Regions from separate parts of the Homo sapiens genome. Here region 1 is linked to region 2. The links come from fine-mapping of genetic effects on gene expression. A gene starts in region 2. The other region holds a variant in brackets. All regions are shown on one strand. Distances are from middle to middle.

The links. PIP is the estimated chance that this variant, and not a neighbour inherited with it, causes the effect.
Region 1: its variant is the best candidate, but not a certain one, in a credible set for the expression of SYN2 in esophagus mucosa (GTEx, PIP 0.69).

What each region holds. Positions count from the first base shown.
Region 1 is chr3:12,146,081-12,151,457 of GRCh38, reverse strand. It overlaps SYN2 (synapsin II), which reads right to left. Exons shown (of 13, transcript NM_133625.6): 5 at 132-221. Among named protein-coding and RNA genes, the nearest start is that of TIMP4, 10 kb to the left of the region's middle. The variant T/C (reference allele first, on the strand shown) is at 2,990.
Region 2 is chr3:12,001,603-12,006,979 of GRCh38, reverse strand. It overlaps SYN2 (synapsin II), which reads right to left and starts at 2,592. Exons shown (of 13, transcript NM_133625.6): 1 at 2,052-2,592. The coding sequence starts at 2,428. RefSeq lists an enhancer at 1,393-1,893.

The DNA of each region.
Region 1 (5,377 bases), 140 kb before region 2:
TCTATAGTTCAACCCCAGTGGAGTCTTTGGGGTTGAGATGCTGAGGCCCTTTTCAGAGCCCCACAATAACCAGGTGGCTAAGTGCAAAATGAAAACAGCAGAAAGACTAATGTCCCCACTGAGCCACTTACCATCTCTTTGTGGTTGGGGTAGTATGTCTGTTCAATGAGAGGGAACTTTTCTCCTCCCAGTGTCTTATAGATAGCGACCAGCTGGGCAAACTGCAAAAGAAAAGCAAATGTTACAGCTTATCTTAGATAACTTCTGAAACAGATGAAACATCAACTCATCAAATATTTATTGAGCATTTGCTCTGTGGAGGACTTTATGCTAAGCATTGTGAGGATATAAAAGAAGTGTACAATTCCTATTTCCAAGGATATGATACGCATTAGTTGGGGAAGGGAAAGAGAGTGAGCTAAAATTCAATTACCTTTCTCAATTGTAATGATGTTTCAAATCAAATTGATGAACTAGTATTTTATCATATTCATTTTACATATGGGGCCCAGAGAGGATACAAAACTTGCCTATAGTCACAGAACTGCAAGGTGAAGCTGGGATCAAAAATTGGGTCTCTGACTTTCCACACCTGCATCTCTGAGTGATCGCAAGGCATGAAGCTGGATAGGTGACATGGGCCAAGTCTTGGAAGTTCAAACGTCAGGCAAAGGAATGATGGATTTTTCCAGTAAGCAGTATGGAATCACCAAGAATTTGAGCAGGAGGCATCATAAAATGAAGCTGTTCTTCAGGAAGATTAGAATGGTCATGGTATGTGGGATAGACAGGCCCAGTCTTTCTGGGACTTACTACCTAACGAGGGACTGAACTTACTGGACCCTTTGCCTACATATGAGAAACTGGAATAGCTCCATGGGGAAGGGGCAAAGTACACATACTTACAGTGTCAGGGTTGAAAGGCTTTCTTAGTGCACACCTGGGCTCCCCCACCCCGCTCCATCTTATAAATGAAGAAGCTGAGGCCCAGAGAGGTCACTTGCCCAAAGTCACACAGTAGTTGAGCCAGGTTCACAGCAAGGCCCCTTCATTTCCAATCCATAACTCTCCTTATTCCTGCAAGTAGCTGCCTTTCAGGCTCTGTAGAAACTATGCCCTTTCCACAGGAAATACAGGACTTTCCTGCTCAATCCAGTCACATACACACCTACACTCCCATCCCCAGTGCATCAGCAGCAGAGGAAACACATCTCTCTAGGGCTACTGGATTAGTTCACACTCGAAGCCACTGGTATCTGGCATGGCTAGAAGGGAAAGCTGCTAGATGAAATCTATTTATCAGAGAAAGGAAGGCTAGAACATTTTTCAACAGCTCAGGTCCTGTTCTCTACAAGCGATACTGGCACATAAGCCAGGGAGGGGAGACGAGGTTGGGGCAGTAAAAGCTCGGAACTGGGTTGTTAGAAAACTGGAATCTTCTGATTCTTGTTCTGTTAACTTCCTAGGTGTCCTTGGGCAAATGAGTTTTCCTCTCTGGATCTCATTTTCTTCATATATAAAATGAGATGGTTAAATTTGATCAGTTCCTCAAACTTTGTACCATAAAGAATATCTCTTTATTATATTTCCTCCCAAACTCTGCTATCAAACTGTAGTTTAAGTGATCATCTGTTGTGGTCCTTTTGTAGGTATAGATATGATTTTGTTATTTTTGAAATGCTGGAAAACACTGGAATTCCTAGGTCCCTCCCTTTAGTGACAAACAATTGGTGACTCTAGAGCTCTAGGGCCTCCTCCAGGACTGAAAGGATGATTCATGGACCCTCAAGCCCCTAAGATACCATTGTCAAAAGGGACTTTATAGAGTCTCTAGGCCAGCCCTCTGATTTGACAAATTGAGATTGAGGCTGGAGAGCAAAGGAAAGTGCAGGCTCCCGGATCACATCCTGGAGTCAGGGCTGCACTGCAAGAGCACTCAGGTCTCTTCTCCTTGCTGGGTGCATTCACCATTGTACCCTGCTGTCCTCACCGACTTTGGTCCTTCAATTTGCTTTAACTGTCAAGAACGAACCCTCAGACCTTTCCTGCCTTCTCTGATTCTCCACACCTGCTCATCTGACCTTTACGTCCTGCCTGCCCATCTGGGCCTGGCTGGACTTCTGCTCTGCCTCTGGACACCTGCCTGTGCTCCTAAGGCTCTCCAGCATCCCTAGGGAGTTAATGCCAGCTCTGCCAAACGACCTCTGTCCTGCTGCAGCCCACGCTCTGGCATGGCACCAAGACATGTGGGGCCCTACCTTTCCAGCATGTGGGGGAGTTACACAGACACCACACAGATGCCAGGACAGCCTGTGGCAGACTCCCAGAGCCCTGGGACAGCCAACACAATAATGGCAGCCAGTTCCCAGGCTCTCGTTGGGTCTCAGGGAGCTCACCCCACCCTCCTCTCCAGCAGTCCCTGTCTGCTCAAGGTAGTGAGCTTGGCATCTAACCCATAGCTCCCTGGAAACTTAGATTAAATCACAGCCACACAGTCACCAATTAAACAAATGTAACATCTGATAAGGGCTGTTACCTCTACACATAGACAAAAGAATGAATTTGGGAGCTGGGGGTGCTGTTGGCAATTAATAGGAAGATATGTCCATTATAGCCACTCATCCAATGAATCAAGAAAGATTTCTTGGAAAAAAATGGGATTCCAGATCCATTTGAGTAATGTGTCCCTATGCCTATCACTCCTGGAAATTAAATGATTTAATTTAACTCTGGTGCACTTATCTCCAAAAACCCAGAAAGACTCACGGAATTTCAGATAGACTGGCAGCAATAAACGGTGGTGCCATTCTTGCTTTGTCTGGAATGCTGCTTTCATTGACAGGTCCACTTCTGCTCCCCAAATCCCAGTGGCTTGCCCTGACCAACTTCAGAGACAGCAATGTGCTCAGAGACACAGCTGTGCAAGGCAGAGCCTTTTCCAACCCAATCAAAGTATCTCCTCACACCAACAGCAGTCATAGTAAAGATA[T/C]TGAGAAACACAACCCAAAGTCATCAGCTGAAAGGGACCCTCCCCTCACAGTCACCAAATTTGTCCACTCCCATGAACTAGCAGAGAACAATATGTAAAACGTCATTCATGTGGCAGCTGCTTTGTGAAACTGAAGGGAGAACTTGGGGTCTGGCCAGGGAGCCCTGCTGTTCTCCTCATGCAGGGCCCAAGGCAATGTGCTCAGATTGTGAATGGGTGAGAGTGTGACCCCTCACCAGATCCCAGATCCCGGGAGGAGCAAAGCCCTAGCCACAGGCTCTCCCCATTCTTCCTGCCCTGGCCTCTGGCACAGTTTAGGAAAAGAAAACAGGGAACACATTTCTTTTTTTTTTTTGAGACAGAGTCTCGCTCTGTCGCCCAGGCTGGAGTACAGTGGTGCGATCTTGGCTCATTGCAAGCTCCGCCTCCCGGGTTCACGCCATTCTCCCGCCTCAGCCACCTAAGTTGCTGGGACTACAGGCACCTGCCACCACACCCGGCTAATTTTTTTTGTATTTTTAGTAGAGACGGGTTTCTCTGTGTTAGTTAGGATGGTCTTGATCTCCTGACCTCGTGATGTGCCTGCCTCAGCCTCCCAAAGTGCTGGGATTACAGGCGTGAGCCACCACGTCTGGCCACAAATTTCTTTAAGAGAACCCATACACTAGGAGCCTGTAACAACCAGGCTGTCAAAGTGGTGGCAGGTGCTACTATTATTCCCAGTTTGTAGATGAAGAAACTGGGGCACAGGTTCGGTCAGAGAGTTGATAAGCAGTGAAATCACCCAGAAAAAGCTGCTAATAGCAGGATCACCCTGTGTGGCTAGGAGAGAGTCAAATTCTGACAAGTACCGGGGGTGCACGTGGGTTAGGACACGTGTGCCGTAGGAAGGACATGTGACTGAGGAGAAAGGGGAGGTCCACAAAAAAGACACTTGGTAAAGGTCTCACATATGCTCTTCTGTGATTGGCAACATACTAAAATCACACTCTGTTAGCGTGTTTCTGCAGAATCTAGGATTCCAGATGCCTCAGGCCACGCAGAAGGAAAGGCTGAACAAGTGGAGCTTGGGAACCCAACCCCCTCCTTAACCATGGCAGCTCCCAGCCCTCCTGACTACTTGTCCATTGATCTTTTTCTTACACTCCAAGCTCTCCCTGGCTTCAAAAGGAAAAAGAAAGCTGTTAGTTCCAGGGTGAAAAAAAAGATCAAGATCAGAAGTGACAGATCTGTTTGGTTAACACACACACATACACACACACATACACACACACACACACCCCTCTTCAGCTCTCTGAGTGGTGTAAAGGCGTGGAAACTTCACAATTAGACACAAGTTCCAGGAACCTTGGCAATCCAGGGCGTGTGACAGCTGAAATTTCATTTTTACAAAACAAGAAGGGCTTACTGCATCTTGGGGTCCAGAAGTCCCTCCTAGGGGCCTGGAAGATGCAGGGTCTGGATCCTAGCCTTTTACCTGGGGGAAGGGGGCCTCACTTTCCACCCATGGCTTGTCACAGAAGTTATAAATGGATTCCAGTGAGTTGATGCAGGGGAGGCCTGCATACTGCAAGCCAATGAGGATGTGATTAGGGGTAGGTGTTACCTTCTGAGAGGGCCAGCCTGAAGTAGCAGAGCCAGCAGAGGAGCTGGGTCCCCTCAGTGGTCGGAGGGGAAGCCAGAGTGCCCCCAAAGCCATCATAAGTCACTCTCCCTCCTAGCCCCACTTTTTCTATCTGCCTAAAAGTTTCCACTGCCCTCCTAGATTTCCAAATTGGCCAAGGAAGAGAAAACCAGAACAGTTTCCTCCTTATATAGGAGCCTCAATCTATGGGAGAGGCAGTGGGATGTAGAGAAATCCTGGCACTGTAACTTTGGCAAGTTACTTAATCCTTTTTGGGTTTTGTTTCTCTGTAAAAAGTGACAATAATGATATCTTCCTTGTAAGGTGAGGATTAAATGAAATTAACAGAAAAATCTCAGAAACTGGCATCCTATAGTAAGTAGTTTTCTACACCTTACTTTCCTTCTTTAATTTTCATATCTCTATCATGAAAGGTTAAGGTCAGAATTAGGGTTAGGCTTTGATGATCTCCAAGACACTTCTAGCTCATAAGTATTTGATTCACATGCATGAGGATAAATTTCATTTTCAGGTTGCTGAACCACTTGGTAGGACTCTGTCACTACCTGAGTTGGACTATTCCCTTGGTTGTCACTGGGCTCAGGCCTTTCCAAAAGTTTAATCATTCTAGGAGGCAAGAAACAGACATTTTTATCATTGCAGCCTATGGCCAAGGGCAGAGCCTACAGACCTATAAGGGCTTCTTCACGGTATCTTTGTGCGACTTTGTTGTGAGGCCAAAGGTCCACTCCGCAGCAAAGGTG
Region 2 (5,377 bases):
ATCAGGACAAGGTACAGAAGGGTCAAATTCCTGCACAGAAAAATAAAGCACGAATGTCATTCTCATTTCTCCTCTTCCTTTTCTTGGCCTTTCTTCAAGATTCATCTTTTGTGAAGCTTTCTCCAATAACTCTGGCTCTCACTAACCACTCCATTTGTTGACTGCCTGAAACACTAGTCTCAACCAATAATTCTAGATTTCTTTTTAACTGTTTCATGTATCCACTTTGTGTCCCAATTTGAGTGAGTTCTCTTAAAAGGCCCCCACACTGCCTAGAGGGAGCTTGTTATTAATATTGCTAATAATAATAGTGAGGCAATATAACACAGTGGAATGAAAGCAGTGGAGTCAAACAGGCCTAAGTTCAAATCCTGCTTCTACCACTTGCTGGCTACATGATTGTAAACATATTACTTACCTTTCCTAAGCCTCAGTTTTGTGAAGAAAATGCAATGAGATATCATGCTGAGAGTACAGCATTTGGCATATAATGGATGCTCTGACTGAGCACCTTTACTAGCTTGGTTACCTTCCCTTCCTCCGTAATAAGCACTTGTTGATATGAACTGAGTCAGAGTAATTCTAAGGAGGGCTGCCAGTGGCACTATCATATGCATTACACTTTCCCCATTACCCTCTTCCATGTGCCTTTGTCATTTCCTGGCAAAAGTCCTTTCGGATTTTCTACTCTACTCTCTTGAAAAGGCCAACCACATAAGTCACCCAAAGGACTATTCAGAATGGTGACATTAGCAGCCAGCAGGAGGGCATCTCCACATCTGCATCTCATTTCCACCACACCCACACGCCAGCACTCCCTCCCTCTGGGTCTCCCAAAGAGAGAATGCTAGAGAGAGAAAGCAGTGAAGCAGCCAAAAGAGGAAATGGAGAGAAATAGCTCTGTGGTCTCTCTGTGCACCCCTCCTGGGAAGAACACTCAGGTCCAGTCTCCAACCTCAACCCCTATGAGAAAAAAAAAAAAACAAAACCCTTGCTCACATTCCTGGAGAAAAGGCACCCCCAGATTCTCGGCCTCTTCATTTCTCCAAGCCCTTCACCTATCAATTTCACCATCCCACCATTCCCTAGGTTAACTATAAAATAGAGCCGCTTTTAACTAATTTGTCTTCAGTGGACCTCATTCGTACTTTTACCAAGCAGCAGCCTTCACCATTCTAAGTTGGAAACATGCTACCTATCTCTTTAGAAGAAAAAAAAAATTATTGAAGTTTCCCATCTACTACATTAAGGCAGGTCTCCTTTTATTTGTACCCCTTTAATGATCCAGTATATTTTACCAAGGTCTTCATCTTTCAGCTAGAAAAAGCTACCATTCACTTCCACGCCCCGCCCCCCACCACGCACATTTCAGAAAAACAAGCAATCAAAAAAAAAAAAAAAAAATTCCACACGTCCCCTCCCTGCTGCACAAAATACAACAATTTTATTATTCATAAAGAGACTTCAGCCATGCTCCGGGGAACAAGCCCGTGTACACCTGGGCCACTACATGTGTGATTTCATCAACCTGATGTCAATACTTGATATCAGCCTTCATGGGTCCTGGTTAAAAAAAACCCACCACCACCTTCTCCCTCCAAAATACCAATTTCCATTCCAAATTCACTCCGTGCTTCATGAAGTTAAACCTTTTTTACTGGCCCTAAATGTTCCTTCGGCCTCCTGGGACTATTTCACTTCAGATTTTATGTGTCTAAGCTAACAAGTGTGTCCCCTCCTCTACCCCCAAAAAAACTATTTCCTAAGGGCCTTTCCTGTTGCATAAAGTAGCTCCTTCTTGTATGGGACCTGGGGGACCTGGGGCAATTGAGGGGTATTTTAGCTTTGGGTTCGCCTTTCCGGGCTGATGGATGCCCTCCCTCACCCCGCAAACGCGCGCGCGCTCAGCCCGCACCTCCTCCCAGCGGGACCTCGGGGACCCTCCTTTTTATTGGTCTGAAACGTTTCCTCGGCGACCTGGGACCGTCCTCTCCTGGCCTGCGGCTGCCGGCGGACCCCGACCCCCGAGGGCGGCGGCGCCCGGCACCTACCAGTCGGCGTGCGGCTCGTCGACCACCAGCAGCACCTTGGCCTTCCTGGCGGCTGCGGGCGCGGGAGCGGGCGCGTCCACCAGGCCAGCCGAGGCGGCCGTCTGCTTCACGGCTTGGGACAGCGAGCTGAAGAAGCTGCTGCCCACCGACGGCGTCGGCGCGGGCTGCGGCGCGGGCGCCGAGGCGGGCGGCGGCCTCCGCTCCGGGCCCGGCGAGGCGGTCGGGGGCGCCGCCGAGGCCGAGGCGGCGCCCGGACCGGGGGGCGGCGGCGGCGGCGGCTGCTGGGGCTCGGGCCGCTGCAGGTCGGTCATGTAGCCGTTGGGCAGGTTGGCGATGAAGCTGCTGTCCGACAGCCGGCGCCGCAGGAAGTTCATCATCTGGCTTAAAGGGCTGGGGGCGCGCGGGGCTACGGGGTCTGGTGGCGCGGAGGGAGAGCGAGGGCGGAAGGCGAGATTGAGGCGACTGAGGCGGCTGAGGCGGCGGCTTAGCCAGCAGAGACTCAGGCCCCGGCACCAGACCCCGCAGACAGCAGCGGCGGTCTGGGCCAGGCAACCCGCGCGGCGCGAGGCTCGCGGAGAGGGAGCGGGCGGGGCAGGGGCGGGGCCAGAGATAGCCCCCGCCCCGCGCCGCAGAGGCGGCCCCGCCCCGCTCACGGAGGGCACCTAGCCGCGCGTCTGGCGACTCTCGGGGCTTGCAGGAGGGGGCGACCCAGGCCTCCAGCAACCTGAGCGTGACTATGCGGGGAGGGCGTGGGAGCCAGGCCTTCTCCCCAGGGGAAGGAAAAGGAACCAGAGGCCCCACCATCTTTTTGGTTGGAGAGAAAAAGAGCCGTGTCCCAGCTGAAATGGAGGCGAAGGAAACCGACCCCACTCCTTTTGGAAGGATAAGAGGTGTCAGCCTCCCTATGCGGAGGTGAGAACGAAAGGAGTCATCCCAATCACGCGCGCACACACGCACACAAGCACGAACACCCTGTAGTGAGGAGGAAAAGAACCACCTCCTTTCCCAACGCTGGGGAGAAAGATGTCATCTCCCCAGCCCCCAGAAGAGGGGGAAGGGAATAATCCGCTGTTACTAACACACACACACACACACGCGCGCGCGCGCGCGCACACACACACACACACACACACACACACACACACACACCCTATGGTGAGACAAAAAAGAAATACCTCTTCTAGGGAGGAAGGCAGCCTCCTTACTCCAAGGCGAGGGAGAGGAAAGGGGAGAAACAGATCCTCTCTACTCTGTCATGGAAGGAGGGGTGGGGTGTGTTTTCACTCCTGCACTTCTAGGGACAACAACAGTATGTACTTCTCTCCCCCTCCTCACTGACCAGTGAGAGAAAACCAAGAGAAGACTGGAGACATGGTCTCCACCCCAAGAGGGATATCTAAGGATCCCCCAACCCCACCGTGTTTCTTTCCTAGCATGCATTGATGCATCCAGTGCTATACCAAGAAGGACATCTCTTCAAGATCTTTCTACTTGTTTTTTCCATTTTATTCGTTGCCTTGACCTCTGTGAAGACATTTCTGATGGCCACCTTCCCATGTGCACTCTCTAAATCTTGCGTGACTCTTGGACCTTTAGTTTTCATCTCTCATTAGATATACTTTCCCTTGTGTTGTAATGGAGCAGGACACAGCAGATAGGCTTTACAGCAGACTACCCCGGGTGATATGTGACCCTGGATCAATAACCCCTGTGAGCCTCTCTCCTTAGCTGATAAAAAGGAATAAGTAACCCTTTCCAGAGTTGTTACATGGAGTAAATGAGATCATGTATGTAAAGCATCTGGTACACAGCAGTAGGTATTCCAGTAGTGATGCCTGAATTCTTTTTTCAATTGGTTCTCAGTAAGTATGTACTGGGCTGAATGGAGTCAGGGAGTGGCTTGTCACTAATGTTGGTGGGCAGTTCTTGCTTCCTGTATCCCAGCTGGCACTCAACTCAGGGCCTAGAGATACACAATCCAGCTCTGAGCCGGTGCTATCAGAGAAGTCTCCAGTCAACTATAATAACACAGTGGTCTTCCTATCTACTACATGCTTGGCACAGTGGTAAGAGCTGGAAAGGCTGAAATGAATGGGAAGTGGCTCTTGTCTATTGCAAGTTCATGATCTATGTGGGCTGGGGGATGGAGGGAGGATAGACACAGGAACCACATAAGATGTGAGAAATGCTATCATACAGTTGGGCAAAGAGGGTTAGGAGGCCTAAGGAGGGAGGGACTCATTCTGCCTCTGAGACTTAGGAAGGCCTCTCAGAGGAGGTGACATTTGAGGTGGATCTTGAGGCAGCTATGTTTACCAGTAGAAAAGTGAAGAAGGCAGGCAGGCAGGCAGCCAGAGAAGGCATGGAGAAGGTATGTAAGTTGATGGTTCCTCCAGGAAGCCTTTCGTCAATCCTCCAGGGCGGGCTAAGTGTTCCATATCCTGTGCTTGGCTTTGTCATAGACCCCAAAGAAACTATCATACAATATTCTGGTGACTAGAATGTAAGCTTTTCTAGGACAGGATTATGTCTTAGTTATCTTTGGGCTTCACACCAAACACAGGACCTGGCATGTAATAAGGACTCAGTTGTTTGAGAATTGAACTGTAATCTTACCCAACTCGGTTTTTGTGTTTATTGGAGAATAAAACTGATAAGTCACTAATAACATAATTAAATAAACTTAATTATTGCCCTTCTTAAAAAAAAATTTTTTTTTTGAGATGGAGTTTCGCTCTTATTGCCCAGGCTGGAGTGCAATGGCACGATCTCAGCTCACCACAGCCTCCGCCTCCCGGGTTCAAGCATTTCTCCTGCCTCAGCCTCCTGAGTAGCTGGGATTACATGCATGCACCACCATGCCCAGCTAATTTTGTATTTTTAGTAGAGATGGGGTTTCTCCATGTTGGTCAGGCTGGTCTCAAACTCCCGACCTCAGGTGATCTGCCCGCCTCAGCCTCCCGAAGTGCTGGGATTACAGGCATGAGCCACCACGTCCGGCCATCAAAGGCATGTATCTCTAATGAAGGGATTTCAGACACTGTGTCACTTCAATTTTGGGGGTGATAGGTTTTTTAAAATAATATTTCAGTAAGTAATTTCCCCAACCGTTAAGCTTATAGTATATGCATATATTTTTAAAATCAACCAATTAACAGACGTGTTTTCATGCCTAATACATGCAAGCCATTATGCTAGGGACAGGAGGGTAAAGGAGATTCAGGGATGAATGAAACCCAAGTTCTTAAGAAGACAGCTCATAAACATGTGAACACATAACTAGCAATAGCAGAGCAGCCTGTGAGTGACCTGAAAGTAGAGCAGGC